Homo sapiens: one gene and its partners. The protein of the gene in region 4 interacts with the protein of the main gene of each other region in a pairwise test. Each region holds a gene or a part of one and is shown on either strand. Other genes may lie near its edges.

What was found.
Region 1: the proteins of SORBS3 (region 4) and SH2D4A interact in binary tests that used the Homo sapiens proteins (3 or more experiments, as listed by UniProt).
Region 2: the proteins of SORBS3 (region 4) and RIN1 interact in binary tests that used the Homo sapiens proteins (3 or more experiments, as listed by UniProt).
Region 3: the proteins of SORBS3 (region 4) and KIAA0408 interact in binary tests that used the Homo sapiens proteins (3 or more experiments, as listed by UniProt).

The regions. Positions count from the first base shown.
Region 1 is NC_000008.11:19,393,658-19,396,718, forward strand, and holds the end of SH2D4A (SH2 domain-containing protein 4A), read left to right. Parts: intron 1-892; coding exon 893-985; 3' UTR 986-2,561; downstream 2,562-3,061. UniProt on the Homo sapiens protein: Inhibits estrogen-induced cell proliferation by competing with PLCG for binding to ESR1, blocking the effect of estrogen on PLCG and repressing estrogen-induced proliferation. May play a role in T-cell development and function.
Region 2 is NC_000011.10:66,333,435-66,341,150, forward strand, and holds the start of RIN1 (ras and Rab interactor 1), read right to left. Parts: upstream 3,001-7,716; 5' UTR 2,969-3,000; coding exon 2,883-2,968; exon of another isoform or gene 2,857-2,882; intron 2,725-2,856; coding exon 2,544-2,724; intron 2,443-2,543; coding exon 2,328-2,442; intron 2,249-2,327; coding exon 2,176-2,248; intron 2,065-2,175; coding exon 1,973-2,064; intron 1,818-1,972; coding exon 1,080-1,817; intron 791-1,079; coding exon 485-790; intron 225-484; coding exon 93-224; intron 1-92. Other genes in the region: BRMS1 (breast cancer metastasis-suppressor 1), read right to left, coding at 4,234-4,455, 5,287-5,351, 6,687-6,779, 7,340-7,436, 7,533-7,612. UniProt on the Homo sapiens protein: Ras effector protein, which may serve as an inhibitory modulator of neuronal plasticity in aversive memory formation. Can affect Ras signaling at different levels. First, by competing with RAF1 protein for binding to activated Ras.
Region 3 is NC_000006.12:127,456,383-127,463,271, forward strand, and holds the start of KIAA0408 (uncharacterized protein KIAA0408), read right to left. Parts: upstream 3,008-6,889; 5' UTR 2,793-3,007; intron 1-2,792.
Region 4 is NC_000008.11:22,554,896-22,561,930, reverse strand, and holds part of SORBS3 (vinexin), read right to left. Parts: coding exon 6,951-7,035; intron 5,217-6,950; coding exon 5,023-5,216; intron 3,803-5,022; coding exon 3,739-3,802; intron 597-3,738; coding exon 558-596; intron 67-557; coding exon 1-66. UniProt on the Homo sapiens protein: Vinexin alpha isoform promotes up-regulation of actin stress fiber formation. Vinexin beta isoform plays a role in cell spreading and enhances the activation of JNK/SAPK in response to EGF stimulation by using its third SH3 domain.

The DNA of each region.
Region 1 (3,061 bases), 3.2 Mb from region 4:
TGGGGGCTTGTCTTTGATAATTCTTCCTGATAATCAGGATTGTTAATCACATTTCATTTATCTTAGAACCTAGTTCTTCCTTAAATACTCAGGGAACCCCACTGGGGCAGAGAATACGGGAAATGCTAAAACAAAAAAATAAAAGCTGTACCCACATGGATCACATATGACAGCAATCCCCAAACTTTGTGACACCAGTTTCCTGGATGACAATTTCTCCATGGACTCAGTGTTGGGGGATGGTTTCAGGATGATTTAAGCACATTACATTGATTGTGCATTTTATTATTACATTGTTATATATAATGAAATAATTATACAGTTCAACATAGTGTAGAATCAGTGGGAGCCCCGAACTTGTTTTCCTGCAACTAGACAGTCCCATCTGGAGGTGATGGGGGACTGTGACAGATCATCAGGCATTAGATTTTCCTAAGGAGCGCACAACTGAGATCCCTCCCATGCACAGTTCACAATAAGGTTTGTGTTCCTATGAAAATCTAATGCTGCTACTGATCTGACAGGAGGCAGAGCTCAGGCGATAATGTGAATGACAGGGAGCAGATGTAAATACAGATGAAGCTTCACTCCACTGCTCACCTCCTGCTATACAGCCCAGTTCTAACAGGCCACAGACTGGTACTGGTCCATGGCCCTGGGGTTGGGGACCCCTGACCTATGAGAATTCATAGGCCTTAAGTTAGAATTCAAGCCCTGAAGGGAAAGGAGTACCTGGTCACATGTAGATAAGAAAAATGCCTTTTAAGATGATCATAAACCACAAAAGCTTTGTGTAAATCATGGGTAGGCAGCTAGTGATGTCCTCTGAGGAAGTAGGAAGAGCATGTGGTCACTACTTACACTATCTGACCCCGTGCCTTCTGATTGACAGGAGGAACCCATCACTTCCCTGGGGAAGGAGCTCCTTCTCTATCCCTGTGGTCAGCAGGACCAGCTGCCTGACTACCTGGAGCTGTTTGAGTGACAGCCTCCATCAGGGTCATCCTACAGCCTCCAAGCGGGCTTTCCCCTGGACAAATGCCACTGCAACATTTATGTGTGAAGCCAAAATCACCCTGCAGCAGAGCCAATACTGATCAACTGAAAGTAAAGTATCCATGGAGTCCTCATTGACACCTCTTTTCTGCACAAATACTGGAATTCAATGTCAAGAGAAAATGACCTCTGCTCAAAAGGGAGAAGAGTCTCAATTTCAGCAAGTACCTGTCATGAAGGGTATGACCTTAATGATGTACATAAAATAAAACAAATGAAGAAATGGAAAACTTTTAGAAATTAAGGTGTACTTGAAAACGAATATCTATCATATGACCCCTGCACTCCCTCTGTATCATCTCAGGAGGTTTCAGGGGCCTGTTGACATGAAGTTTCGAAGTTTCATGTTGGCTTTGGAATGGTAGCAAAAGCCTTTCCTGGCTGAGATGATGCTTAAAACACACCTCACTTATTGTACATGTTGGAACCAGGACATGAGAGACATAGAAAAACAGAAGTCATGAATGTAAATTGAATGAGAGGCTTAACATGCATGAAAATACAGATGGACCTGCAGGAAAGTGAGCAAACATCGCTGAGTTTGTTTTCTTGTTCGGGAGAATGGGGCCGGGGCTGGCCTGGCCTCCCCTGGATATACTCTATAGTGCACCAAAAGGATAAAGCATCTGTACATGTATTTTTTTATTTTTTATCAGAAGTGCTTAGACAAGAACAGAATAAGCAGGCTGTTTGGATGCTACTTGTGGTTGAATTGTGTTCCCCCAAAATATATGGTGAAGTCTTAACCCCCATCCCCGTGAATGGGACCTTGTTTGGAAATAGGGTCTTTGCAGATATAGTCAAGATGAGGTCACATTGGATTAGGGTGGGCCCCAAATCCAATGACTGGCATCCTTAGGAGAAGAGAGAGTTTTGGTAATAGACACAAATGCAGTGGGAAGAAGACCAGGGGACAAGAGGCAAGTTGGAGTGATGCAGCCGGAAGGGAAGGGACACCAAGGATCTCCGGCCACCAGCAGAAGCCAGCAGAGAGGCATGGGACAGGTTCCCCACAAGCCTTAGAAGGAAGCATGGCCCTGACTTCAGAATTCCAGACTCCAGAACTGGAAGAATAAATGTCTGTTGTTTTAAGCTGCTTAGTTCATGCTGAGTTCATGCTGACTTGTTACTATAGCCCCAGAAAGCTAATACAGTCGTTTATGTAATTACATAACCTGACACACAAGATCGACCCATTCACTGCTGCCCAGTCCACCATTTTCATAATGAAGTAGAAATGGGAGGTAAGAAAAACATTCCAGCCAGTTCTGTTTAGCCCTGGCACACATATTTGTCCCGTCAGGAATCTTATGCCCTCCTGGAACCCCCGCCCACCTCAGTCCAGTCCCAGTCAGGCGAACGGCCTCTGGACAGGGACTGAGGTGGCTCTGAGCCACTGGAGATCATTTTTCTTGGAGGATGGAGATTGGCTAGTACCTCTGGCCTAACTGTGTAGGTCAATACTCTTTTACATTGCCTTCTAATAAAAGCAGAATGATACAGCAGTGTTGTTACAAGCTTGTTGGTTGCGTACAGCACTCATTGACTATAAAATGTAGCCAGAGAAGGGGATGGTTGGCATGTGTGTTCTAATGAGAAAGATGATGGTGATTATTATTTTTAGAGACAGAGTCTTGTTCTGACACCCTGGCTGGCATGCAGTAGTGCGATCACAGCTCACTTCAGCCTCAAGCGATCCTCCTGCCTCAAACCCCCAAAGTGCTAGGATTATAGATGTGAGATACTATGCCAGGTAGAGATAGCTTTTAAACATAGATCATTGTTTAACTCTTTCTTGAAATGTTCCATGTGGTTTATATTGTTAAACTATTGTAAGGATCCATCTCTTGGCTTTTGTTCCTATGATTCAACAGTCATGGCATTATTGAGAAACTTCTCAACTCTTCCTACCATTTTCTGTATAATCTTGGACAGGACAGTTTGTCTCTGAGCCTCAGTTTTTGCTTCTGAACAAAAAAAAATATGATTCAACTGGGTGATCTTT
Region 2 (7,716 bases), on a different chromosome or scaffold from region 4:
GCTCAGGCTGGGTGTGGGGCACCCCATCCCCTCTCCCCTTCCCTGCTTATTCAGGGCCCACCCAGACAGGGAGGTGGGTGGGGGTCCCTCACCCTCTCCAGTAAGCAGGCTGGGCTCCAGCAGCTCCGACATGTACTCGGCCTCCAGCAGCAGCTCAGGAAGGTCACAGTGGGCCAAGACGAGGCTCAGCAGAGGCAGGAACTCGTCGGCACCCGCGCCCTCCCCTGTGGGGACATGGTGAGAGGAAGAAGCTTCAGGTACAGTCCTTGCTTTAGGCAGTGACCCCTCCCCATGCCCTAGCAACCATTGAGGGGCTTCAGAAAGGATGCGCTCCTCTCTAGGCCTCAGTTTCGCCATCTGCAAGAGGGGAGGGTGGGCTCATTCTCTCCTGCAGGGCTGTTCTAGGGTCCTGGGGACCTGCCGCTGGGGGGCCCGCCTCTGACTCAAAGGGGCAGGGCAGGGTGAGGTGGTGGCAGGGACATACCTTCCTGGGTCCTCAGGGCCATGTAGAGCAGCTTGCAGGCCTGCAGGAGCCGCTTGACCTGGGCGCTGGGTGAGTAGGTGCGGAGCAGCTGCAGCAGCTTCTGGCGCACTTGCTCCAACTCTACTGGGGAGGGCAGGCTCAGGTGGGACCCGAAGGCTCCGGGGCCCTGGGCCCGGGCCAGGCGGAGGCCCTCAGCTAGGCGGCCCAGGGAGCCGTCTGCGGCAAGCCGGCGCCGCAGGCGGGCTGCCAGGATGGGCCGGAGAGGCTTGAGCACAGAGCAATGCAATGACTTCTCCAGGACATGTTCTGCCGGAGGGACAGGGAGGGGTCAGGGGAAGACTGGGGGTATGGGGGGCAGAGGCAAGGGGAGAAGGGAGCAGGGGTAGAATCGGGGAGGAGAGGCAAGGAAAGCAGGAGGAGGTAGCCTGGGTGAGACGGAAGAGTTGGGGGAGAGAGGGGATGGAACTCTCTCGAACAGTGGTAAGACAAGATGGATTTGTAAAGCAGCAGAACAGAATCAGACAGGCTGGCGCTGTGGAGGGGAGCAGAGGGTCGGATGGGGCAGTGCTGGAGCTATGGAGAGACGGAGCCTCACCCAGCCTCTTAGGCGACAGCAGCTTCTCAGGGCCCAGCTCCGCACTCAGCATGGCCCGGGCCCGGCTCAGCGCCTGACGGATGCCCTGCAGCTCCTGGGGCTCGGGCCCAGCCCGCACCTGGGTCAGTAGGTCCTGCACCAGCTGGCCCGCGGCTGTGTGTCGGTCCTGCATCAGTGCTGCCGCAGCCCGGCCCACCTGCCGCTCCGGTGCCAGTAGGGAGCAGAAGGCGGCGCTCATGGACCGAAGCAGAGGTCGTCGGCGGCCCAGGTGGGGTGAGGTCGCTGGGCTCCCCCGGGACCCTGGCACCCCCTCCTCCTCGGAGCTGCTGGGGGAGCCGCAGTCCACCTCTTGGAGGGAGGGCATAGGCGGAAGGCTAGGGCCACTGCCTGCTGGCACGCGGTACCCCACTGAGCTCTCCCTCCGTAGCAGCTGGCAAGGGGGCAGCCGCTCTGTCTGGCTGGGGACTGCCCCTGGCAGCACGGGGACGGGGGGAGGTGGCACGGCAGGTGGAGACAGGGGGCTGGAGGTCTCTGTGGACACGCGCACTTTGAAGCTTCTCTTGAATTTCTCCCGCTTGGTGGGCCCTAGGTCCCCCGGGAACAGGGGGTTGAAGAAGCACAAGGCGGCTCCGGTGCCCTGGTCCAGCTCTTGAGGGGACCGGGCCTTCAGCTGGGGCAACACTGGGCCTCCAGCCGGGCCCCGCTGAGCCTTGATGTTGAGGGAGGAGCTCCAGAACTCTAGGGAACAAGAAACCGACTGGGGCCTCCGGGACTGGTTAGGGGAAGTTTCCCAACCAAGGCAAGGCAGGGGCTTCGGGCGGTGTGCTGCGAGCCTTGCCTTCCCCTCGGCCTCAGCTTGTTCATCTGTGCAATGGGTGGCAGGAAGCCCTTACCAATGCCCAGATGGGAGATGGCCTCCAGCTCTTTGTGAGTGGCTGCGTGGTGGATGGCTCTGGGGAGCTGCAGCGGGAGGAGAAGGATGTCCCTGAGGCCAGAGAGGGGAGCAGAAGGGAGTGAGGGCCGAAGAGGGCGGGAAGGATGGGCTGTCCCAAGGAGCAGGGCCCGTGGACACCAGGCACCCTGCGGGCAGACTCACCGGGTGTGGCAGTAGGCACAGATGAGCTGGACTAGGTCTGGGAACATGAGCTCCGAGCCCTCCAAGGAGACGCCTGAGAGAGGAGGGAAGTGAGGTGCTTCTCTGGGGAACCTCCCTGCTTCCAGCCCCTTCCCGCCAGGCCAGCCCCTCACCGCCAGGGCTCTCCAGGATGTAGTGGCTGGAGACGAAGGAGGGGCCACTGGCTTCAGGCAACCGCATGCACAGGGCCTGGCACTGGCGGGTGTTAGATTTCCGCACGAGGAACGTCTGCAAGTGGATAGGGCTCAGGCAGCTCAGGACCTTGGCGTCCCATCCCTCTCCCTCCCACCCCTGGCTGGCCAGTCCCTGGAGTGTGGGGCAAGACTCACCCCCGGGGGCTCGGTCCTCAGCATGTGCAGTGCGGCCGCTGCGTTGGCTTGCAGCTGCAGCCACACGGGCCGGGTGAGCAGCAGGCGCTCCCGCAGGCTCACAACGCGCCCCGGCCGCTGCGGCCCGCCTGCCTGCCCGCCGCTGGCATTGGGCACGTCATACAGTGGGTCCTGGGCTGGCCTGGGGGCAGGCACCCAGATCTGAGCAGGGAGCCAGGGGCTGGGACCCTTGCTCTCCTCTTCCCCACTCCCGGGTTTCCCACTTTCTCTATCCCCGGATAGGCCCTCCTCTCGCAGCCCCTCCCTGCCCCACCTGGCTGCCCTGCCAACTTCACTAACTTTTCTCTCGCCAGGTGCCCAGTAGTGAAGCTGGACGGGCTGGGGGCTCCAGGAGAGCCCGCGCCTGACTCTCCAGGGCTTTCCATGGCTGGGAGCTCCTTCGCTTCAGGAAGAGAATCCAGTCCCAAGGCAAGGCACGCACATCCCCAGTGAGTAACACTTCCTGAGGGCGGTCCGCCTGTCACACCCGCCAGTTAACTCTTGTGTGTCCACCCTGCCTGGCCAGTGCCCGCCTCCTCTGTTCTGGACCCTGCTTTGGGGGTCAGGGGTCCCCTCCATGCTAGCCCTGCTCTGAGGGCCCCAGCTGGGGGATGCCACCTCCACACACGGCCTCCTGCAGCCTCACCAGCTACTCACATTGCACACGTGGGCGGGAAGTGGTTAAGCGGCCTCAGTCCCCACAGGCCCCAGCCATGCTCTGGGGGCACCTTTGGCTCTGTGGTCAGTTGCTCATCTGCCCCTGGCCTCAGGTCAGCCTTGTGGGAGAGCACCCTCTACTGTCCATAGATGACTCATTCCTGAACCTGGGTTTTAGGATTTTAGGTTGCCATGGAGAAAATATGCCATGTCTCCATGGAAACCAACCTATTTGCTTAACTGAGGTTCTGGGGGTGGTTCTGACACTCAGTGCTAACCAGGGGGAGTCTGGCTGTGAGGTCGTCAGCACATGGCGGTGCTGCCGGCTGCCTCCCACGCACGCAGGCTCTGCCAGCCTGCCTTGCCAATCTGCCAGGCAACTGGGACAGGTGCAGACATGACCCAGGCTCCAAGCACACGCATCCACCCTCCCCGCCGAGGCACTCTCCCGGTGCCATATGTTGACTCTGCCCAGCGCCAGGCAGCCCAGCGCCCACCTCCCCCTCCCCAGCCTGGCCCCACGCACAGTGCTCTAGCCTCTGCTGGGTAGTGTGAGGAGTGGCAATCTGCAGGCACCCTAGAAGTCGGCCTGGTTCAGGTGCTCCCCACGGGAGCCCTGATTCTCTTGCAAGGTAAATCACACACACACACAGGGCACGCCAGAGTCCCAGGAAAGGTTTTAATTCCAGTCCTTGGAATCTGAGAAGCAGACACCAAGAACTGCCCTGAGAACACCTGGGGGGCCTGGCATCTTGCCTCCAGATCCAGCCAGGGTGGACAGACCCCCAGATAATCACGTCTGACTCAGAGTTCCCGCACAGTGGAAACTGGCTCCCTGGCCCTGAGGCCGGACAGCCTGCATCCAACATCAGCAAGAGGATGTGGCTTTGACTTCGGCTGTCTTCTCTGTCAGGGGAGCCCCAAGAGATGGATCTTCAGGAGTGGGAGGTGGCAGGCGGCTCAGGGATGGAGACAGCAGCCTTGCCTGGTCAGGTCAGCTCCACGGCCACAGCTGTGCAGGCCTCGAGGAGGGCAGAGGAGGAGTCCAGGCCAGTGCCAGATGGAGTGGGAGGGCCCAGCAGCACCACAGGAGCCTGGCTGGGCAGACCCTGAGGGGCCTGTGGGTCCGCCTGTCTGCAGGAGGAAGACGAGAATCCTGGGTGCAGTGCCAGCTGCTCTGAGGGTCCCCCTGGCTGTGAACAGCAGGGTCAAGGTCCTGTGCATATGTGGGAAGAAGAAAACTGTCACCAGTTAGGAAGCTGAAAGGAAGGAGGCAGCCACTTACTGAGTGGCTTTGGGCTGGCCCAGAACAGGCCTCCTGGGCAGCTCCACAGCCCTCCCTGACCCCTCCTGAGTGGGAGCTCCATCAACCCAGAGCTTCCCCAGCCCCATCCTGGTTCCTGCTCCTCAAACTCCCACAAGCCCCTCAAATCTAGACCATCCTAACTTTCTTGAGCCACTGATTCTGACACAGTCACAGCCTTTCTCTGGGCTCCTTCCTGGAAGCTGAGCTGAGGAAAGGTGATGGCAAGGGGGCAGGGAAGGCCATGCAACAGCCATGGTTCTTACCATCCGATTTTCTCTTCTGAGGGGACACAGCTGCCCTAGCCTGGGTGGGTGAGAAGAAAAGCTCCCCTGAGAGCCCACCTCCAGCTTGGCAATCCCTGCCCCACCCCCCACCTCTGTGGCTTGTGGGCTGTTGCCTCAGTGCTGTGCCCCCAGGACCGGGAGCATAGGCCCCACCCAGGCAGAGCTCCCATGCTCCTGACTGCTGGCCAGCTCAGCGGCTCTCCCGCCTCCCCGCCACCCTCCCACCCCATCAAAACCTGCCCCAGAACGGGAAGGGGCTGACACAGACTAGAAATCCCTTTTCCCAGGGCCGCCTTGAGCAAGAGGACTTGTGAGCCAACTGCGATCCAGGGACTCTGGGCTGAAGATGGGGAAGCCTTGGTGAGCAGAGAACTCCCAGGCCTGCAGATGGCAGAGCTGCTGCCAGGGTGGGGGGCCCTGAGGTGGGGCAGGTCACGTGGGCAGCAGCGGCCCCCACCTTTTTGATGGCTGTCCAGTCCTCCAGGATGTCGATCTCTTGAAGCATGTACACGATGTATGGGCCTGTGGTGGGGGTCAAGGAAGCCTAGTGGAGGTGGCAGGTGACGAGGGCAGGGCCACCCACCTGACATTCAGGAGTGGGGGTACAGCGGACAGCATGGAGTGGGAGCTGAGGACCTGGGTCCGAGGTCAGGTTCCACCTCCTACCTCTTAACCCCCTGGTTCCAGGGGTCGTCCTGGAACCAAGTCTATGGAGGACACCAAATGTTGTTCCCTGTCCCTTGCTCACCCTCACCTCGTCTTAGGTCAGCTGGCTGAGGCCCATCCCATCTCACTCTGCAGCACTGGCCCTAACCTGGCCCCTTCCCTGATCCAAAGACAGACGCAGGGCTTATCCCTTCAGAGACAACTCTCCCTCCCCCAGTGCTCCCTACTTGATGTCTCCATGCCTTCACCTTCCATTCACTCAAGTCATGGCCTTCCAGATTCCTCCCTCCCTGCCTGGGCCTGCTCTCCAGCACCAGGTTGCCATAATGACTAAGACTGGCTGCTGCAGGAATACCCTCAGGGGTGCAGGAGGACTCAGCTCTGCCAGGACAGATGAAAGCACAGCAGGCCCTGGACTAAGCTTAAGCTAGCCCTGCCTAGGAAGGGGTGGAGGCAGCCAGTGCCCTCTGGGATGTGGGTACCCCATGGTAGGGCACAGAAGCACACAGGAAAGTGAAGCCATAGGCACCAGGGTAAGACCAGAAGAGGCCTCACAGAGGAGGTAACGTTTGAGATGAGCCCTGGACAGTCGGGACAGGCAGGACTTCCAAGAGGAGGGTGGGATATGAGCAAAGGCTCCCCAGGGAAAGCTGGGGACCCGCTCGGACAACCCCGGGAGATGGAAAGGCCTCAAAGGCCAAACCTCACTCAGGCTCAAGTGCAGTGGCACCATCACGGCTCACTGCAGCCTTGATCTCTCAGGCTCAAGCAATCCTCTTACCTCAGCCTTCAGAGTAGCTGGGACTATAGGTGCACACCACCACGCCTGGCTAATTTTTGTTATTTTTTCTAGAGATGGGTTTCACCATGTTGCCCAAGCTGGTCTCGAAAAGAACTCCTGGGCCCGAGCAATCTACCCGCCTTGGCCTCCCAAAGTGCTGGGACTGTAGATGTGAGCCACGGAGCCCAGCCCGTTTCTGTTTTCCTAGGGTTCACATAGCCCAGAGAGACCCAGGACCCCGTAAGAAACTGCTGACAGCTGGATTTGCCTGGACATATTCACATGACACCAAGCAACCACGAGTGCATCTAGTGTGACTGTCCTCCATGTCCCCTCCAACCCCCTCCCCTGGGTCTGGAGTTGACCCTTACATCCTGCCCACTTTTAGGCCACCTTGGGTGAAAGGATACCAGAAACCAGAGGTGCCTTCTTCCTCTTGCTGGGCGGCAGGGAGTCCCAAGACCTGGAGCTGCCTCTGGCGTGCAGTTTGTCATCCCACCATTCTGCCCCGAGACCCAGAGTTAGAATTGGGGTGCTGGCCCACAGGATACTCCCTTTTCTGTAGCCTCTGCCTCCACCATGGGCCGGCCTGGCCTCATCTCCCCTGTCCCATCACCACCCTGGGCTTGGGGTAGAAGCCCCTTAGGGCTGTTCAGGTCCTGCCTGCACAGCTGCACAACCCTGGGAAGAGGTCACTGCACTTCTGTGAGCCTCATCTGTTTAGTGGAGAGTGGGATGACGACAATTCCTGCCACCCCAGGACTCCACGTGAACACAGGTACTATGAACATGGAGGGGACTAGAGCTATTGCATGTGACTGCATGTCACACTGATACCTGTTTTGGAAAGAGCAGGGGCAGAAGAGGCAGGGAGACCCACTCTGCTTGAGCCCCCATTATGTGCCAGGCCCTTTCCAGGCCTGGTCTCCTTCAGCCCTCACACTGACCCCAACAGGCAGGTCCTCTGGCTGTCCCCTTGACTTCAGGACATCTGAAGCCCAAAGAGGGGTGGGCGTGGACTGAGCGGGGCCCAGTTCCGGGGTGCCCAGGCTCTCGCGCTTACCAGAGCTGAGGTCCAGGCTCTGGCGGTCCTCCTCCAGCCTCTGGATCCGCTCCTGCAGCTCCCCCTGCAGCGTGTCATAGAGCAGCAGCTTCTCACTCTGGAAGAGGGGGCAATAGCTCAGCAGGACGGATGGGGTGAGGCCACTTCAGGCTTTGTGCCCTGCCTCACCCCCAGTGTGCCCAATCAGGCCCACCTCCAGGTGCTGTTTGGCTCCCTGCAGCTCACATTCGTACTTATTCCTGATCACATCCAGACAGAAGCCCTTGTAGATCCCTGCAGAGAAAGGGAGGAGGGTCCCTGCTTGGCTGGGGAGCCCGGTGCCCACATAGGAGGGCTGAGAGCAAAGGGCAAGGCCGGGCAGGAACGAGAGAGGAAGG
Region 3 (6,889 bases), on a different chromosome or scaffold from region 4:
AAGATGCCAGGCCTTTCTCTTTTTAACCTACCGGAAGATCATTCAGGAATACCCTAGATCAGTCTTGCTCTTGATAACAAGACTATATCTAAACCCAGGTAACAGTCCTGAAGCAGACCGAATCCTGCACCTATTTGCAAAGAGCCAAACTCATCCCTTAATATGGAGAAGGACCAATGTATGGAGCTTTTCCTTTCCAGGCCCAGAGCAATTGCTAGTGCCAAGAAATGTAATAGTTATGGATCAGAAACAAGCCTTTGCAAGAACATTTCTATAGAGCAATATCTGTGCCAATTTTTTGTGGAAGGATTTGGCCTTCTTAGCATCTCAGTCTTGTCGTAAATATAATGTTAGATGTAACGCAGCCAAACATATTGCTTCCACCTCTAAATATAAAGTGGTGGGGGGGGGGCATAGAATTGTTTTGGAGATTAAGTGAGCAAAAGGGAAAAATGCTTAAAAGAAGTGCCTAAACACTGCTCTGGATCATAGCAAATGCCTGAAAAATACTTGGTTCTTGTTTTCTTCCTTCTGTCCTTTGTTCCCTCCCTTCCTCTTCTTGTCTTTCCTCCCTCCTTCCCTTTCTCCTCTCTTTCTCCATCTATCCCTCTCCATGTTGTTCTCTGGAAAAAAAACAGATTATTTTGGTCTTTATTTTAAAACGAGATAGAAGCAAGTGTAATTGTGTGAACTCTCATATTCTCCATGATCTTCTTTTGCCTTTTTTCAAATATTTTAAAGATACATGTCACATATTTAAAGAAAAAAGTTTTATTGTTAATAAAAATGTGAACAAATCTTATGTAAAACTGCTTTTGTTATAAATCTGACTTAAATATTACAAAAAATATCAAACTGAAGGGGCAACTTTGTAGAGATAGAATGTTTCGTAATGAGAAGTTATGGGGTAAAGTGGTTCAGCAGATTCAAAAACTCAATTTAAGTGCTCTCTACTGGGGCAAAAATAAAAGTTCTTTTTGTTCCTAGTTGTCACTCATTTTCTCCCACAGATACTGGCATCTATGTGGGAGAGAAGGAAGGATTTCTGCTATCTGCATCCCCTACCCCATATCTCTTTGGCTCTCCAGTTTATGTTCTTCCTTCTAGAATTCCATTTCAGAATAAAAATTTATTAGAGCAAATGTAAGAGGACAGAGTGAGCTGCATTACTTAGTCACACACCCCAACTCTAAACCAGCATTGCATAATCCCTTTTAACTTACTTCCCCTTTCCAGGGCTGAAAGCCAGAATTATAAAGAGTTGTGAGTGGGTTGCATAAGTATGGTGATGGGAGGCAAATAGTTCTGCTAGCCTTCCGGCCCTACCAGTAAGCAAAGTTTAAGAGTAACACACAAGTCTCACAAGAAATTATTTTCACCCCCAAATTAGCCTCAGTTTGGTCATGGCAGCAATTCTTTCTCTGAGGGGTGCTCCATTCTTAGGACACCTGGGTCACTACCCTTTCAACCTCCAACTCGCCCATTGAAAACTGGACTGCATCCAAACAAACTAAACAGCGTTCCTTAGGGGCAGCTGCTCCATTGCTACTTCTCTCTTTTTAGATTATTGTTTAGAGTACTTGTTTCTTGCTGTCCTTATTTCCTTTTGCTAAACATATCACTTTTCACATAATTAAAGATTTTTCATTTATAAGAGGTTACATATTCCAATAGAAATGCCACACACAGTAGGTACTGCTAATCTCACAATTCCTAGAAGACTCATTTGGCCTGAAGATGTTTTGCTTCTGCTTAACTTTGATGGATTAGGAATTCCCCAGCTTATAACCTATCAGAGTAATGTACCATTTACCTCCTAAATTCTCTATCCCTTTCTCCAGGCTATTATAATCACTTGAATTATTTCAATGAATTAATAAATCTCATTCCTCTCTATTGTTCACTTGCAATTGAATCTTTCCAAAGACCACCATGATTTGATTTTGTTAGAGTAAAAGGGAAATTTTTTTCATTGCTGTGTATTGCTGATTTAGCACATTCCTCATGCTCCAACAAGGTCAAAGAGACACTACCACATGCAATTCCGAATGAATCAACTTTACCGTTTCATTTAATTATCTTCTTCCTTGTTTTCTTTACAGTTATTTACTCAAATTAGAAAACATCCAAGCTGTATGCACACTGATTTTACTTATAAAATGCAAACTTTAAAAGCAAACATTTGGTTTGAGTAAACAAATGTCTAAAACTAACCATCGTGAACAAAAGACATAGTGGTAAGTTTCCCTCCTAAACGTAGATTATTCAATTATGAATGGCATAGACTTCAGCTCAAATTACAGAAACACTAACTCTACAGTGAGTCCACCACCACCTTAGATAAAACTAAAATTTATTTTTCACCGCAATTTTCAAATACCAAGTCTCCAGGATTGTGACCTTTAATTTGCAAATGTTAAAAGTCTTTATATGAATAAAAAAAATCACATTTGAATAAATATACTTAGTGAAAATCAATGATGGGCAAAGTGCTTTTCAAACAACTGAGAAGCAGTGTTGGAAAAACAGTCTCAAAGAGCGGATGGTACTGTCAGTCCACAGTTGGGAAATCCACCCTGAGCAGCTGAACAGCCTTTTTCCTAGGAGTCAGTACAATCTGTTATGCACCCCGCCCACTGTTTTTAAGCCCAGACACAGACAACAGCAGAGACAGATGTTGAAATTACACTCCACTTAAACAGTATCCATAGTTTAAAACATCTCAACAGCAGCCCCTTTGTATCCTGCCATAATTAGTCACTTGCTTGTAAACTTGCCGGAAAGAAACATACCTTTCACACTGGGGAGAAATCCTATGGATGCTCGACCACTGGTCAATTAGCAGTGGAAGAAAGTGGATGGCTAGCTGTCTTAAAGAGAAAAGTCTCAGCTCGGTGAATCTCGATTCTTTACAAGAAAAGGGGATGCAAAATAAGTCCAACCATTCCACAGAGCAGTACTGACAAGTCCCTTTGAAACCTTCACCACTTTTACAAGTCAAAAAGCTGCTCAGCTTAGTGTCACAGCAGCAGCTGAGACTACTGTGACGTCAGTTACTTGGAGGCGGCCTTCAAGCCACCTCTTCCAACCAGAGCTCTGTAACTTTAGAGCAGCTCATGCTCTGGGTAAACAACTCCAGGTCCAGGACATTTTTAGCTTTTATAATGGAGCCCAGTATTTTCAAACTTGCCAAAAGAGCTGGTTGTTAACATCATACAATGACAATGGCCAATTTTAGATTTATTTTATTAGGAAAGTAAACTCATTTTTTTATAGGCAAGAATTATCTCCCTCCTTCCATAATTCTTTCTCCTTCTCAGCTGGTGGCAGGATGTACTCTGCTGCACCTTTAGAAGTTTGCATCTGGATGTGGCAGAACAATATGTGTAGCATAATTATATATATTATGCACTCTCAAAAGATCTGTGAAAGTTATCAAACTTCTATCTTCAAATAAAATAGAAATGGAACATAAAGTCCAACCTCTTAGCTCTCTGTGATTCTGACAGTGTGTTGCTTTTATCTACAGTAGTAGCGATGTCTTTACGTTAGAGAAAATCAGAGCCCATGGGAAAGGATGAGATTTCTTATTGTGGGAGGACAAAACACACACACACACACACCCCAAAAATGAGATACCTATGGGCTTATTTTCCACTAAAGTGTGCTGCAGCCATAGGAAGAGAAAGCAGCCTAAGTGTATGGAAAAGCTCTCTAAATCATGATCAAATCAGCCTGTTCTGAAATGCTAGGAGATCTTGCCTCCCCAGCGACATTTTCAGGTTTATTGTGGCTTTGTACACACATGCATCTGATGATATTTGGTTTAATTTAGTCAAAAAAGTCTCTAGAGCAATTTTTTGCCTAACTTAGCAAATACACAAGTTTAAACAATAAGGTCTTATCTTCAAGTCTGAAGAGCTTCCCTGGTGTGGTCTTTAAAGTAATACATATTCACTCACATTATTTTCACCTGCTTCCAGATAAACATTTCATGAGGAGCTAAAGTTTAGTAATAGTAACCTGCTCACAGTAGGACTTTAATACATGTAGGACAATCAAATGAAACCATACTCTGTGTCTGGAAAGCCTGACATCATAATCTCAACAGCAATAACAACAATAACAGTGATAGTTATAGTAATAATAGTGATTATTCACTGAGGGGCAACCCTCTGCAAGGTTCTGTGCTAAGTACTTTGAACAGACCTTTATCTGAGTTCACCCTCAGAGCAATTCTGTCTCTAGATACTGATAATCTGATCTTACTGATAAAACCCAAGCAAGGCTCATTGTGGTAAAGCATCATGCAAAAGTTCATAGAAATGCACCCATGTGGAGGAAACGGGTTTGAACTGTTTTGTCTGATTGCAAACCATGGAATTTTGTCATAGAGATCTAAGTTTCAATTCTGCTGCCACCACTTATCTGTGTGATCTTGCAGACCCTGATTCTTCCTTAAAGACATAATTATATTTACTTTAAGAGGCCATAAGAATATGAGGGAATATATATAGCGCCAAGCACACAATAAAGGGTAGCTCATGTCTGCCTCCATGCTTATGAGGCTAGGAAGAAGATTCTTTGAGAGAGGGAAAGGGAGGAGGGAGTTGCACAAAAACATCAATACAGAATTGTCTTAACATTGTTTCTGGCCGGGTGTGGTTGCTCACACCTGTAATCCCAGCACTTCTGGAGGCGGAGGCAGGTGGATCACATGGGGTCAGGAGTTCGAGACAAGCCTGGCCAACATGGTGAAACCCTGTGTCTACTAAAAATAAAAAAATTAGCCGGCTGTGGTGGCTCAGGCCTGTAATCCCAGCTACTAGGGAGGCTGAGGCAGGAGAATTGCTTGAACCCGGGAGGCAGAGGTTGTAGTAAGCAGAGATGGCATTCCTGCACTCCAGCCTGGTTGACAGAGCAAGACTCTGTCTCAGAGAAACAAAACAAAAAACATTGTTTCCTTTACCTTTTCTTCTACTCCAAACTTCTTAACTTCTATGTATCACTTGTAAATCAAACTAAGACTATTTTGTAAATCCTATCGAAAATTCAGATAGTATGTGTCTAAGTTACAAGAGATGTTAGGTTGGACTATACTTCCTAAGTGTCACTCAGTAGTACCCATTTCAATCTCTTTTAATGGCTGTCCCAGTGTGATTGTCCCAGGGCAATCACAAATAATTGCCCTATGTTTTAGAAAGAATTATGTCATTCATACCTGATGACATACTAATTTATTTCAATGTATATCAGATTCAAGTGCTTCATCTGCTTCTTGTCATGGTAAAGCTGATCTTAAATTGTACACAGAATCAAATAATAATGAAAATCTTTGACAAAAAGTTTACTCCAAGTTTACCACTTATTCTAGTATTTACCAACTTTTTCTGTTGAAGTTTATATATATATAATTTATATTATATGTTATTTATATAAAATATATAATTTCCAGGCCATATTTCATACCCAAAAGACAGAAAGTAAGTCAATTAGGTGATACGGTGCAAAGTCAAGAAATGTTCAGCACAGCTTTTGATATTTTCCCTTGAAAACTTTTTGTTTTTTAAGAAAACTTTTAAAAGAAAATTTACCACAATTATATACATAAAATGAATGCATTTAAAAGACTGATGCTGGTATACTCAGCCCTACAGTTACATTCAGACATCTTGAACTGCCTGAGGTTTTCAAGCAGGTGTCAGAATGACTGAAAATCTTATGAAAAAAATGCAATTTGTTTTGTAATGCAGTTTTTCTTTAAACCATTTGAACATTTAAATCTTCAAATATGAAATTCACAAATGATTGCCCTATGTTTTAGAAAGAATTACATCATTCATACCTTATGACATACTAATCTTATTTCAATGTATAACAGATATGTAAAGAAATGTACATAATAACACTTAATGGAAAATAAATGTAGAAACACTGCCTGCTGTCAAGAAACAAAAAAGAAAATTCTAAAAAGAAATGGAAAAGATCTATATTAATAATAATATTAAGGCACAATCAAAAACATTTTAAAAAGGGTAAAAGAGAACTAATGCGTGCATAAATGTCACTAGCAGGTGTTTCCAGACTTACAGAATTTTAGAGCCAGAAAGAACTTCTGAAATCATCTAGCTAACCTTCTCATTTTACAGTTGAGGGAAGAGGCCCTGAGAGTAACTCATCTGCTCAAGGTCACAAAGCCACTTAGTGGCCATTCCAAGAATAGAATCCAGGTCTCCTCATTCCTGGTGGAGTGCCTTGAAGTTCAAAATTCCAAGAAGTGCAAGGGAAGAAAATCGAAATAAGAATGCTGGATATGAGAGGAGACTGAGAAGTTGATTTCTGGCTTTGGCAAATTTTAAATTCAGTTTTCTTCTATGTCCAAATGAGAGAGAAGATACTCTATCTTTCAAGTATGACATAAGAATCATATAGCTGAGTATTTATTTATTTATTTTTGAGATGGGAGTCTTGCTCTGTCACCCAGGCTGGAGTGCAGTGGCGCAATCTCAGCTCACTGCAACCTCCGCCTCCCAGGTTCAAGTGATCCTTCTGCCTCAGCCTCCTGAGTAGCTGGAACTACAGGGGCATGCCACCATGCCCGGCTAATTTTTGTATTTTTAGTAGAGACAGGGTGTCACCATATTGGCCAGTCTGGTCTTGAACTCCTGATCTCGTGATCCACCCGCCTCGGCGTCCCAAAGTGCTGGGATTACAGACATGAGCCACTGTGCCCAGCCAGCTGAGTATTTATTACTATCTAAAGAGGCTCGTGTCCTTAGCTAATTGTAAACACTGGGTCAAAATAAAAAGGCAAATGGATTTTATCTTAGCAGTTAAAAAATCTGAAGATAAACATGGCAACATGGCCTTAAGCATGCTAGTGCCAGTA
Region 4 (7,035 bases):
CACTGGAAGATGTTGCCGGGCCGGGCCTGTGGGCAGGTCTTTGCTGGGCTCCTAGATGCCTGGGGTCTGCAGAGGAGGTACACGAGGAAAGCATTGAAGGTGGGAGGAGACAGGCCGTGACTGGGGCTGAGGGTGCCTGGGTGATTATTTAGAGTTTCAGCACCACCCCCTTGCTCCTGGGTGGATGGTGGGGGCAGGGTGGTTGGTGCTCAGGGACACTGAACGCGGGCATTGCCCTCAGAGCTTTACGACATTTACTACATCTTCAAAACAACTCCGAGTAGGTGATGATCTCATCTTATAGATGAGGAAAGGGAGGCCCAGAGAAATCCCGGCCAGGGAGTGGCAGAGCGCGCGTTCCCCGTGCAAGCTGAGGCTGTTAATTACCACCTACCGGGGGATTTGAAGTGCTCTGGAAATGAGCTATAAAAACCTCTCAGGTTGAACTGAGCCAACTGGAGAGCCCCAAAGCCAGGCGGGGCTGCGAGTCCCAGCCCCAGGGAGGGGCGGACGCAGGCGCAGGGCTATGGCAGGCAGGTGGGCCCGCATCCCCTCACCTCTGGGTGGCTCCTCGAAGGTCCAGTCCAGCTGCAAGTCTGCAGGAGCAGAAGGGACCAGGTCATGGGACGGGGCAGAAAGCAAGGGCAGGGTGCCCTGGGAGGCAACCTCAGCCGCTCCCAACATCCCTAGAGTAGGGGGCTGAGGGCTGAGTCAGGGCCTGAAGAATGTCCCAAGGGAGGGAAGGAATTAGGAGGGCAGCTCTCTGGAGGGCTTGAAATGCCTCTGGCAGGCTTGGGGCCTAAGCGAGCCAAGCGGGCAGCCGCCTTGCCCAAGCCCTCCTGCTCCTCCCTCCCTGTTCCCACACACACCCTCTCCTGACCTTTGTGGACTTGCCCTCACCACTCAGGCTGGGGAAACTCGACTTGCACCCTCTTCCAAACGCTTTCCTTCCCCATTTGCCAAGACCCACTCCTAGCTCCTCAAGGTGCCTGGGAATTTCTGGGGCTTCCTGGAAAGAGCTACTGACCCACTGCTCCCCACGGCGCGTGCGCGCGCGCACACACACACACACACACACACACACACACACACACACACGCATGCGCTGCAACGGCACCTGCCTAAACGCCAGCCACATCACCCCTCACTGGACCCCACACCCTCCTCTGACTCCTGGATTTGTCTGCTTTCCCCCATAGTAAACTGTAACCAGTGACCATAAAGACCACACCATCTCCAATCCCCCTACTCCCCGTCTCCCTAAACAGGCTTTTGCTCACCACTGCCCAACCACTCACTCTTATCAAGGATGCTGGTGACCTCCACGTTGCCAAATCTGACAGTCAATTCTAAGTATTCATCTTACTCAACCCATCAGCTGCATTTGTCACCACTGGTCACATTTTTCTTTTGGAATTCCCTTTCCACTTGGCCCCAGGGAGATCTCTCCGTTTTCCTCCTACCTCCCTGGCTCTACCTTCTCAGTTGCCTTTTTGGTTCCGCCTCATCTCTCAAACTTCTAAGCATCCAGGTGCGTGGGGGCTCAGTCCTGGGGTCTGTTTGTCTCTCTATCTCCCTAGGTGATCTTGTCTAGTCTTATGGATTGTTGTTTTTCAGAGACGGGATCATGCTATGTTGCCCAAGCTGGACTTGAATTCCTGGGCTCCCAGGAATTGAATTGAACTCCTCAGCCTGCCAAATAGCTGAGACTGCAGGTGTGTGCCACCACACCCAGCTAGTCTTAAGGCTTTTAAAACGCCATCTATTCCCATGTTTCACAATCTTGGCTGCTAGTTAAAAGTTTAAAGTTTCCCCACTAGAATTACTGGGGAAACTTTAAATCAAAATCTCTCTCTTCTTTTTTTTTTTTTTTTGAGACTGAGTCACCCAGGCTGGAGTGCAGTGGGGTGATCTCAGCTCACTGCAACCTCTGCCTCTCAGGTTCAAGCAATTCTCCTGCCTCAGCCTCTGGAGTAGCTAGGATTACAGGTGCACACCACCATGCCCAACTAATTTTGGTATATTTGATAGAGACAGGGTTTCGCCATGTTGGCCAGGCTGGTCCCAAAATCTCTTTTGAATGAGTCCCAGGTATTTCCATCTGCAGTTTTAGACCTTGTCCCGTGAACTGCAGACTTGGATATTCATCTGCTTACTCAACCTCTTCACTCAGAGGGAACATGTGTCTAAAACTGAACACCTCTTTTCTTTTTTTCTTTTTTTTTTTAGAGACAGCGTCTTGCTCTATTGCCCAGGCTGGAGTGCAGTGGAATGGTCTCAGCTCACTGCAACCTCCGCCTCCCAGGTTCAAGCAATTCTCCTGCCTCAGCTTCTCGAGTAGCTGGGATTACAGGTGCATGCCGCCACATCCAGCTACTTTTTTGTATTTTTTAGTAGAGATGGGGTTTCACCATGTTGCCCAGGCTGGTCTCGAACTCCTAAGCTCAGGCAATCCACCCACCTTGGCCTCCCAAAGTGCTAGGATTACAGGCGTGAGCCACCGCGCCCGGCCTGTGAATGCTACTCCTACAGTCTTTTCTGTTTTGACAAATGGCAACTCCAATCTTCAACTTGCTGAGGTTTAAAACCATCCTTGACTCTCTCTTCCAAGCCACGTCCAATCCATCAGCAAATTCCAGTGACTGCAGTGTATTCAGAGTCTCATCCTGTCCCACCAGGGCCACTGCTACCGCCCTGGTCTAACACACGATTATCTCTCCCCTGGATTGAAGCAAAGTTGTAAAGGTGGCCTTTTCTCCCTAGCCCTTACCAGGCAAGGGAACTGGTTCCACCATTCCTTTCCCACCCCACAGCCAGGCACAATCTTTTCAGCCATTACTTGTCAGAGCATGGCACTCTTCCGCTCAGTGGCTCCTCCTTATTTGCACCGTAAAAGCTGAAGTCCTTATAATGGCCCACAAGGCCCCACGTACCCTGACACCACCACCTCTCTGACTCCATCTCCCACCACATGCTCCTCGCTCCAGGCCAGGCTCTCCTTGCCCGTCCAGAACATGCTTCTACCTCTGGGTCTTCGGAGCTCCCTTTGCTGGAATGCTTCCCCCAGCTCTGCCAGGCCGACTCCTTCACTCCCTCCATGGTCTGATCAAACACCGCTTACAAATGACCTTCCTGGCCGCTCCTGGGTGAAGGAGCAGCCTCCCTGCATGGGGCACTCTCCCAGTCTGGCTTTATTTTTCCCTAGCCCTTTCCACCATCTGTCATGTCAAAGGTGTGTCTGTTTATTGTGTGACTTCCTTTGATCTTTGGCACCTAGAATAGTGCTCAGCATGTGGTACATGCTCAATAGATGGTCAAGGACTCACTGAATGGATGGGTGACCTCGGAGCCAGCTCATAGGCACCCCCAGGGTTGGCTGCATTTTGAGTTGTGGAAGAAAGCAATGCCTCCAGTAAGGGAATGACCGCTAACAGTGGCATTCCAGCTTGGCAGGGAAATCAGAGAGGGACTTAAGGAAAGGAATGGCTTCTCAGTCCCCTCAGAGGACACTGTGGGACAGTGGCTGGTCAATGTTCTTCTTGGGGATGCTCTGGAGACCGCTGCTGGCCCCGAGTACAGGGAGGGGACTGCCTATTTTCAGGACTACTCATTAGAGCCTGGGAGAAGGTGGAGAAGAACCCCTTGAGCAGCTAAGTCCCCTTTTCTTTCCCTGTCTCTCCAAGCCCCAGGGGCCAGAATCCACTTTGGCAGGGAGAGGGCCCTGGAAGGGTATCTTACCTGGCATTTTCCGGTGAATCTGCTGGAACATTCTCCGGTACCAGTCTCTGGGTCTGTCAACGCTCTGGGATCAGAAAATGCAAAGTCAGTCCTCCCTGCTTATTCACCCTCCCAATTTCAAGCCACAAAAATCTTTCCCTAGTGAGTCCCTTCTCTGGCCATCCCTGAACCCCCCATAGGTGGGCTGGGAAATGCTTCTCTTGCGATCTCTTTAATAACAATAGCTTCATGTAACACGTCCTATATAAGTAAGATATATGACAAGATCTCCATCGAAGTGTATGCAATAATGATGTTATGAGATTTGGGGCAATTTACATTTTTTCTCTTTGCTTTTCTTTATGTCTAGTGTTTCTACAAAGAACATTTTTCTTTTGTGGGGAGACAGGGTCTCCTGTGTCACACAGGCTGGAGTGCAGTGGCATGATCATAGCTCACTGCAGCCTCCAATTCCTGGGCTCAAGCAATCATCCTGCCTCAGCCTCCTGAGTAGCTGGAACTACAGTCGTGCACCACCTTGCCTAGCTAATTTTATTTTATTTTTTTTTTTATAGAGACAGGGTCTCACTATGTTGCCCAGGCTGGTCTGGAACTCTTGGTTTCAAGCAATCCTCCCGCCTTGACCTCCCAAAGTGCTGGGATTACAGGCGTGAGTCACTGCACCTGGGCCAAAAATGACAGCAATAATGTAGGAGTGAGATGCGTGTTTCACATCACCTGCTTCATCCAAGCCTCAAAACAGCCTCAAAACAGGAAGGGAATGTTACCAGCTCCAATTTCCAGATGAGAAAATGGAGCTGGCTCAAGACACAAAGGTGGATGGAAAAGGGCAGGGTATCCCCAGTCCTAACTGGACCCCCGGATCCTTCCACGCTTGCCACAGTGAGAGACCTTCTCACACAAGACTCACTCACTCATTCGGCCGGTCAGTCATTCATTCAGCAACCATTTCATGAGCGTCGTGACAGGCCCTGGGGATATGAAACTAAGAGAGGGTCCCCTGCAGCCTCAGGCCTTACAGCAGGGGTTCTCTACCTTTGAGGCCCTGATGAGAGTTCTAGATCTGTACCCCGCACAAACCACTTGAGCAACTCAGGCACACGAGGGTGTCTGCAGCTTTATGAGGTTTACAGCCGCTGAACCCCACCACGGTTGAACCCCTGCTTAATCTGGGATGGTTTGGGTGCGGCCTTTATTGCCCCACCCCCATTTTAATGCACAGAAGTGCAGCTCCCTGTAGATCCCTGGGCCCCATCTCTCCGTGGCCCCCAGCCCTGGACTCACGGATCGGGGGGCAATGGGCATGCCGCTCTCGTCCACGGGCCCGATTCCCTCGTACTTGACCCAGCGCTTGTCCCGACGCTTGCTGTCCTTGGTCCACGTGGCTGACCAGTTCTGGGTGTGCTGGGAGGCAGGGATCTTTGTGCTTGCAGAGGGCTTGCTCCCAGGGCCTGGCCAGGTCTGATACCACGCAGGGTCTGTTGGGTGCGTGCAGGAGAGCATTAGTGAAAGGCAGGGGTCTCCACCTGAACCTGTGTGTCCCTTAGCTCCTCAGAGCATGGATCTCTGTGGGTTCAAAGTTTCAACATCGCCTTGTTTGTTTGAGTGGATGACTCAGAGCACCACGGGCCTCTGTTTGTTTAAGTGAATTTAAATGGATTTGATCTTGAGAATGCCGTGCCTGGCCCTACCCCCATCCTTCTTTCCTGGGACTATCCTAAGTGCTTTCAGAATAAGGTCTGGAAATCATTACTTGTAGAGAATGCAGGGGACATCCCAGCTGGGGTGTGGCAGTAAAGATGCTGGGCTTAGAGGGGACAGACTTGAATTCAGACCCCAGCTCTACCACCTATTGGCTGCCATGGCCTGGGGTACATCAGTCACCTTCTCAGTGTCTCAGTTTCCACTTCTGTAAAACAAGGGTCATTGTGACAAGGATTCAGTGACATCTAGCGTGTGTGACTGTACCCAGCACAGTGCCTGGCACACAGTCGAGAGGCTCTCAGTGAAGGTCAGAAACCCATTCCCCAGACATGGTTGTGACTGAGTCCTCAACTTACCCATAAGTGTTAGCCTCTAAGTAGCTAGGGCAGCAGAATAAGGGCTTTGAGGCCAGATGTACAAGTGTGTGAATTGCAGCTCAGCCTCTATGGCTGAACATCTCTGCGAATGGGGTTCCTTACTGGGAAGCTGTCAGTCATCATCACCCCTACTTTGTCAGGATATCGAGGGGTTAAACGAGGTGAGCCTCGTAAAGTGTTTTTACAGTGTCCAGCACGCTCTGGGTGTTCCATAATTGTGTGGGTGTTTTTTTTGGTTTTGTTTTGTTTTTGTTTTTGTTTTGAGACAGTTTTGCTCTTGTTGCCCAGGCTGGAGTGCAGTGGCACGATCTCAGCTCACTGCAACCTCCACCTCCCAGGTTCAAGTGATTCTCCTGCCTCAACCTCCCAAGTAGCTGGGATTTCAGGCACCCGCCACCACACCCAGCAAATTTTTGTATTTTTATTAGAGATGGGGTTTCACCATGTTGGCCAGGCTGGTCTCGAACTCCTGACCTCAGGTCATCCACACACCTCAGCCTCTCAGTGTGTGTGTGTTTTAAGTGACAGGGTCTTGCTGTGTCATCCAGGCTGATAGAGACAGGGTCTTGCTATGTTGCCCAGGCTGGATAATTGTTAAATGAATAAATTCCTTTACACAGCACCTGTCTTAGGGGAATGCTTGATAAAGGATGTCACTTTAGGAGAGACATGTTCAGGGCTGGCCTGCACCCAGGAGTTCCCAGGACCTCTGGACTGGGATCTAGAACTGCCTCTCTAACCTCCTGCTGGGTAGCCTGTTGGGCCTGAATGGGACAGTCTCCACCCCTTCCCAAGCCAACAGATACCCACATCACCTCCACCCTTCCATCCCCAGTCCCTGTGGGAGGTCCTCCGGCGCCCAGGGCTCCTGCACGCTTCCTTTCCCTGGCACCAGGCTGGAGGGCAGGGGAAGGGATGCATCAGCCTGCTCTCCCCAAGCGGGTGTCTCTTGCAGAGTCAGCAGGCTCCGCAGGGAGGGGCTCATAGTGAGCCCAGAGGCCTCTGAGGAACCTCCTCATGGCCTTGAGAACCCCATCTCCAGCTGCTGCCCCTCCCGCTTGACACAGGGCAGTGCCAGATGGCAGGGCCCTGACCCTCCATCTCCAGCATGAGGCTCCTGAGCAGACCTACCCGGGTGCTGGGAAGCATCTCGTCTTGGTGTGTAGCCCCCATTGCACACAGTCCTGGGCGCGGGGTCGTGGAACTGGAAATTAAG